Linked DNA regions of Homo sapiens. The protein of the gene in region 2 purifies or fractionates together with the protein of the main gene of each other region. This does not show direct contact. Each region holds a gene or a part of one and is shown on either strand. Other genes may lie near its edges. The genes, in order: HSDL1 and MGRN1.

Evidence for each region.
Region 1: the proteins of MGRN1 (region 2) and HSDL1 purify together in Homo sapiens (affinity purification with mass spectrometry; one large-scale study listed by BioGRID and IntAct). This does not show direct contact.

Annotation. Positions count from the first base shown.
Region 1 is NC_000016.10:84,138,586-84,142,398, forward strand, and holds part of HSDL1 (inactive hydroxysteroid dehydrogenase-like protein 1), read right to left. Parts: intron 1,673-3,813; exon of another isoform or gene 638-1,672; intron 1-637.
Region 2 is NC_000016.10:4,627,807-4,631,619, forward strand, and holds part of MGRN1 (E3 ubiquitin-protein ligase MGRN1), read left to right. Parts: intron 1-3,813. UniProt on the Homo sapiens protein: E3 ubiquitin-protein ligase. Mediates monoubiquitination at multiple sites of TSG101 in the presence of UBE2D1, but not of UBE2G1, nor UBE2H. Plays a role in the regulation of endosome-to-lysosome trafficking.

The DNA.
Region 1 (3,813 bases), about 80 Mb from region 2:
ATAATTTTATTTGTCAATTATACTTCGATGAAGTTGGAAAAATATAAAATAATTTAAAAAAATTTTTAAGCTTTGTTTTCTCATCTCTGCAGAAAACTAAAACATCTGTGAACAAAACAAAACCACAACTGTCCCCAAACTAGGAAAAGAAGAGCAAGTCCCTATTATCTTTTAAGCATTTTCTACTTCTACAGGGCAGGAGTCATCAAAAACCTACAGGAAACGTTACAACTACAAAAGCGTCACGGGACAATTATGGTCAAAACTGCAAGTAGCAAAGTCACCTCTTCAAAGCACCACTGCTGTGGCCTGTAACATGATCCCACTCCACAGTGAAGGGGACTCCACCTAGCAGTGTAAAGGGCAATCAACTCAAATAGAAAAACCTTCATGTACCAAGAGTTCTGGGAGGAAAGTCTTGGCTGAAACATGGACATTACCAAGCTATCCAAATGCGTGTGACGTGGGGCGGGTGGTGAAAGAACACAAGGCAGACTGGCCAGGGTTTTAAAGAAGACAAAGCAAGCAGGATGGAAAAAAAGACAATCAAAGCATTAGCGAACGACAGTGTGGTGGGCACAGTAATGGCCTCCAGGGATATCTACAGCCTAATCCCCAGACCCTGTAAATACGTCACCTTATGTGGCCAAAGGGACTCCGTAGATGTGACTGAGTTAAAGACTCCGAGCTGGGGAGGGTGGGTCCAATGTCATCATGTGTCCTTGTAAGGGGGGCAGGAAGATCAAAGAGAGAGAGCCATGTGACTACAAAGGGAGAGGTCAGAGAGAGCTCGAGTTGAGGGTGCTCTGTGCTGCTGGTTTCGATAATAGAGAGAGGGGTGGGTCACCAGTGAAGGACGGGGGGTGGCCTCTAGAAGCTGGCAGAGGCAAGGAAAAGGATTCTCCCCTGGAGCCTCCAGAGGAACACAGCCCTGCTGACACCTTGACTTTAGCGCAGTCACAATGACTTCAGATTCCCATCTCCAGAAGGAAGAGACATCTGTGTCATTTTAAGCCACTACCTTTGTGGCAATTTGTTACATCAGCCACAGGGGATAAGGATAAACAGTGGGAGGAAGGGATGGATGAACAGTCAGTTCAGCTTTCAGGACAGCGAAGAGACAAGCTGAAAACTCTGCAACCTCCCTTAAGCCAAAACCACTATGTGTATTCAGGAGCCAGAAAGTCTCAGAGGTTCCTGCCATCTTTGACTGACCAGGGTAGACCTGAGGTCCTCCTCCTCACCAGCTGGGATTATCCAGCTTTTCAGTAAGGCTCCAGGGCGATGGCTGTTTTCATTGATGAAAACATTTTTCCAAATAAATCTTAATTTTTTCAGAGTGTGAATCTGTCTTGTGCTCAGTACTCCAAATCCTCTGTTCTTCCTGACGTTTCAAGTCCCATGTCTTCTCCTCCGTTCAATCACTTCCTAACAAGCACCAACAACATGTCAGCCCTGGGGAGAAACTTCCCTTCCTGTCCCTTCCCTTCCCAGGCCGTGGCACTGCCCCCACCTCTGAATTCCTCTCCACCTCTCTTACCCATGTGGCACTTAGCACACACTGCTTTGGATTCTATTTAAACACTCAACTTGCTTATATCTTGGTTTCTTGGTTGTCCAAGGAGAGCACAGGCCTCTGGAGGGCAGGAGATGTATAGAAAACGAATTTTTCTGTAACTAAAAGAAATTTTTGTTTTTAGGCCGAGTCTTGTTCTGTCTTCCAGGCTGGAGTGCAATGGTGCAATTTCTGCTCACTGCAACCTCCGCCTCCTGGGTTCAAGCGTTTCTCCTGCCTCAGCCTCCCGAGTAGCTGGGACTACAGGTGCCCTCCACCATGCCCAGCTAATTTTTGTATTTTTAGTAGAGATGGGGTTTCATCATGGTGGTCAGGCTGGTCTTGAACTCCTGACCTCAAGTGATCCACCCACCTCGGCCTCCCAAAGTGCTGGGATTACAGGCGTGAGCCACTGCACCTGGCAAAAATGTTTAAATATATACAAAAGTATGTAAAACCTATTATGCACAGTTCAAAGAATAATAAAACAGCCACTTAGCCACCAGCCTACTTAACAAAACCAGTGTCGTGGAAGTCCTGTATGCTGTTCCTCTGATTACAGCCCCTCCTCTATCCTGGAGGCAGCCTCTCTCCTAAATTCTGGGGTAGTCACTCCCTGACTCTTTTAACAAAACAGCTGTATACCCCAAGCATGTATTCTGAAACAGTAACAGTATTGCTGGCCGGGCGCGGTGGCTCACGCCTGTAATCCCAGCACTTTGGGAGGCCGAGGCGGGCGGATCACGAGGTCAGGAGATCGAGACCACGGTGAAACCCCGTCTCTACTAAAAATACAAAAAATTAGCCGGGCGCAGTGGTGGGCGCCTGTAGTCCCAGCTACTCGGGAGGCTGAGGCAGGAGAATGGCGTGAACCCGGAAGGCGGAGCTTGCAGTGAGCGGAGATCGCGCCACAGCACTCCCGCCTGGGCGACAGAACGAGACTCCGTCTCAAACAAAAAAAAAAACAGTATTGCTAAGTTTCGCCTGGTTTTGAACCTCACATAAAGGAACCACACCACATGGACCCTTTGGTGACTTGTTTCTTTCACTCAACATCATTCCCGAGACTCATCCATGCCCCTGCAGCTATATAGTCCATCCTCCTCGGCAGCTGCACAGTATCTCACGGTTCAGATGCACTGCAGTTCACAGGTCCCCCTGCTGCTGGTTCAGATACACCACGATTCACAGGTCCCCCTGCTGCTGGTTCAGATACACCACGATTCACAGGTCCCCCTGCTGCTGGTTCAGATACACCACGATTCACAGGTCCCCCTGCTGCTGGTGCTAGGCACGTGCACTGTTTCTGCTGGTTTTGATTTACAGTTAGGAACAGTGCTGCAGGGAGCGCTTGTCCCCATCTCCTGCACACCTGTGCAAGAGTTCGCAAAGGGATTTGCCCATGGTTTAACTGCTGGTCCACATGCATTCCACTGCCAAATGCTTTTGCAAAGCGGCAGAACCCATTCACACTCCCGCCAGCAGCAGGTTCGTGCCACTCCTCAATGTCACTGGCTGGTAGCGTCCAAAGCTTCACCTTCTGCCAACAGGGTGGCTGTGAAATGGTATCTCATTATGGTTTTAATTTACATTTCCCTGGTTACTAGTAAGGCTGCAGTCCTTTTTATATGTATGTGCTTTCTGTGTTTTGTAATCTATGAAATGCCCGTTCCTATCTTTTGTCCTTTCCTTTTTTTTCTCTCAGAATTGTAAGAATTCTTTAAATATTCTAGATACTAGCTCTCTGTATGTTTTGTGTCTCATTATAGTGTCTTTCATGAACTAAATGTGTTGTTATTATTATTGAGACAAGGTCTGGCTCTATTGCCCAGCCTGATGTGCAGTGGCATGATCACAGCTCACTGCAACCTCCGCCTTCCGGGCTCAAGCCATCCTCCCACCTCAGCATCTCAAGTAGCTGGGACACAGGCATGTACCACCAAGCCCAGTTAAATTTTTTTTGTGTGTGTAGAGATGAGGTTTCACCATGTTGCCCAGGCTGGTCTCAAACTCGTAAGCTCAAACCATTCACCTGCCTTGGCCTCCCAAAGTGCTGGGATTACAGGTGGGAGCCACTGCACCTGGCTGAATGTCTTAATTTTGAAAGAGACAAATATATCAATCTTTCTGCTTTAGGGTTTGTTTTATTTCAGAAATCCCTCCTTAGCCTCAGGTCATGAAGAAATTTTTTCGAATTATTTTCTAGAAATTTTACATTTTTGCTTTTTCAGTTTAAGTCTTTAATCCTCCTGGCGTTT
Region 2 (3,813 bases):
GCGGTGGTTCACGCCTGTAATCCCAGCACTTTGGGAGGCTGAGGCAGGTGGATCACAAGGTCAGGAGATCAAGACCATCCTGGCTAACACCGTGAAACCCCATCTCTACCAAAAATACAAAAAATTAGCTGGGTGTGGTGGCGGGCACCTGTAGTCCCAGCTACTCAGGAAGCTGAGGCAGGAGAATGGTGTGAACCCAGGAGGCGGAGGTTGCAGTGAGCCGAGACTGCGCCACTGCACTCCAGCCTAGGTGTCAGAGTGAGACTCCGTCTCAAAAAAAAAAAAAAAAAAGAATTGTGGGTGGGTGCGGTGGCTCACGCCTGTAATCCCAGCACTTTGGGAGGCCGAGGCAGGCGGATCACGAGGTCAGGAGATCGAGACCATCCTGGCTAACACGGTGAAACCCCATGTCTACTAAAAATACAAAAAATTAGCCAGGTGTGGTGGCAGGCGCTTGTAGTCCCAGCCACTCGGGAGGCTGAGGCAGGAGAATGGCATGAACCCGGGAGGTGAAGCTTGCAGTGAGCCGAGATCACGCCATTGCACTCCAGCTGGGCGATAGAGTGTGACTCTGTCTCCAAAAAAAAAAAAAAAAAAGGAGGGGACATTGAAGCAACAACAACAAAAAAAAGAATTGTGCAGTCATCACCACAATTGCAGACATTTCCCTTGTAAAAGTTTCCTTCCATCTGTTTGCAGAGTCCCTACCCCAACCCCCACCCTCAGCCCATCAGCGATCTGCTTTCTTTTTTCTTTGAGATGGAGTGTTGCTCTGTCGCCCAGGTTGCAATGCAGTGGCATGATCTCGGCTCAGTGCAACGTCCGCCTCCTGGGTTCAAGCAATTCTCCTGTTTCAGCCTCCTGAGTAGCTTGGATTACAGGTGCGCACCACCACGCCCGGCTAATTTTTAAATTTTTGGTACAGATGAGGTTTCACCATATTGGCCAGTCTGGTCTCGAGCTCCTGACCTCAGGTGATCTGCCTGCCTTGGCCTCCCAAAGTGCTAGGATTACAGGTGTGAGCCACTATGCCCAGCCTTTTCTGTTTTTTTTTGAGACAGTCTCGCTCTGTTGCCCTGGAGTGCAGTGGTGCAATCTTGGCTTACTGCAACCTCTGCCTCCTGGTTTCAAGTGATTCTCCTGCCTCAGCCTCCCAAGTAGCTGGGATTATAGGCACTGGCCACTATGCCAGGCTAATTTTTGTATTTTTAGTAGACACGGGGTTTCACTATGTTGGGAAGGCTGGTTTCGAACTCCCGACCTCAGGTGATCTGCCCACCTCAGCCTCCAAAGTGCTGGGATTACAGGGGTGAGCCACTGCACCTGGCCTGCTTTCTGTTCGTATGTGTGTGTGTGTGTGTGTGTGTGTGTGTGTGTGTGTGTGTGAAAAGTGTCTATTTGAGTCTTTTGTCCAATTTTCAAAAACTGGATTGTTTATCTTACGGAGTTGTAACAAAGAGTTCTTTATGTGTTCTGGATAGGATTCTCCTGTCAGCCATGTGATTTGCAAATATTTTCTCCCAGTCTGGCTTGTCTTTTAATTTTCTTAATGGTGTTTCTTTTGAAGAGCAAAAGTTTTGAATTTTGACGAAGTCTCATTTACTGCTTTTTAAGTGGATACTGCTTTTGGAGTTATGTTTAAGAAATCTTGGGCCCAGGCATGGTGGCTCACGCCTGTAATCCCAGCACTTTGGGAGGCCAAGGTGGGCGGATCATGAGGTAAAGAGATTGAGACCATCCTGGCCAACATGGTGAAACCCCATCTCTACTAAAAATACAAAAATTAGCTGGGCGTGGTGGCACACACCTGTAGTCCCAGCTGCTCAGGAGGCTGAGGCAGGAGAATTGTTTGAACCCGGGAGGCGGGGGTTGCAGTGAGCCTAGATCGCGCCACTGCACTCCAGCCTGGTGAAAGAGCGAGACACCGTCTCAAAAAAAAAAAAAAAATCATACAGGCGGCTGGGTGTGGTGGTTCATGCCTGTCATCTCAGCATTTTGGGAGGCTGAGGTGGGCGGATCACCTGAGGTCAGGAGTTCGAGACCAGCCTGGCCAACAAGGTGAAACCTCGTCTCTACTAAAAATACAAAAATGAGCTGGACGCAATGGCGCACGCCCGTAATCCCAGCTACTCAGGAGGCTGAGTCAGGAGAATTGCTTGAACCTGGGAGGTGGAGTTGGGTTGCAGTGAGCCAAGATCATGCCACTGCACTGCAGCCTGGGCAAACAGTGAGACACCATCTCAAAAAAAAAAAAAAAAAAAAAGCGCAGGTGCAGTGGCTCGCGCCTGTAATCCTAGCACTTTGGGAGACTGAGATGGGTGGATTGCCTGAGCTCAGGAGTTTGAGACCAGCCTGGGCAACATGGTGAAACTCCATGTCTCCTAAAATACAAAAAATTAGTTGGGTGTGGCAGCATGTGCCTGTAGTCCCAGCTAATTGGGAGGCCGAGGCAGAAGAATCGCTGGAACCCGGAGCGCGGCAGAGGTTGCAGTGAGCCGAGATTATGCCACTGCACTCCAGCCTGAGCGACAGAGTGAGACGCCGTCTCAAAAAAAAAAAAACAAATAGAAAGAAAAGAAATCTTTGCCTAGGTCAAGGTCACAAAGATTTTCTCCTATTTTTTTCTAGCATTTTGTTGTTGTTGTTGTTGTTGGTTTTTTTTGAGATGGAGTCTCCCTCTGTCACCCAGGCTGGAGTGTAGTGGCATGATCTTAGCTCACTGCAGCCTCTGCCCGGGTTCCAGCGATTCTTCTACCTCAGCCTACTGAGTAGCTGAGATTACAGGTGCGAGCCACCACGCCCGGCTAATTTTTGGATTTTTTAGTAGAGACGGGGTTTTCACCATATTGGCCAGGCTGATCTCAAACTGACCTTGTGATCTGCCTGCCTTGGCCTCCCAGATTGCTGGGATTACAGGCGTGAGCCGCTGTGCCCGGCCTTTTCTAGAAGTTTTATAGTTTTAGCTCTTACATTTAGGTCTTTGATCCATTTAGAGTTAATTCTTTTTTTTTTTTTTTTTTTTAATTTTGAGATAGGGTCTTACTCTGTCATTCAGGCTAGAGTATAGCGGCATGATGTCACTCTAGCCTTGACTTCCTGGCTCAGGTGATTCTCCCACCTCAGCCTCCCAAGTAGCTGGGTTTTCCCAGCTATGTATGTGTACCACTATGCCCAGCAAAGTTTTTGTATTTTTTTTGTAGAGACAGGGTTTCACCGTGTTGTCCAGGCTGGCCTCAAAGTCCTGGACTCAAGCAATCTGCCCACCTTGGCCTTCCAGAGTGCTGGGATTACAGGTGTGAGCCGCTGTAGCTGACCAAATTAATTTGTTTCACTTATGGCTTGAGATAAAGATCTAAACCCCCCTTTTTTGTGGATGGAATTCAATTATTTTAGTATCATTTGTTGTAGAGACTATCATCTTCCCATCAAATTGCCTTTGCACCTTTGTCAAAAATTAGTTGACCTAAGCCAGGCATTGTGGCTGGATAACAAAGCAAGACCATGTCTCTTAAAAATCAAAACAACAGCGACAAGAACCCCACCAGTTAACCATGAATGTGAGGGTTTATTTTGGGACTCTCCATTCTGTTCCATTGATTTATGTGTGTCCCAGAAGTTCTCAACTGGGGCATTTTTGCCCTCTCAAGGGACATTTGGCCATGTCTGGAGACATTTGTGATTGTCACAGCTGGGGGCATCTGTTGGGTAGAGGCCACAGGACAGTCCCCCACAATTAAGAATAAATCGGCCCAGAATATCCATAGTGCTTAGACTGAGAAATCCTGGTCTGTTCTTAGACCAGCAGCACACTGG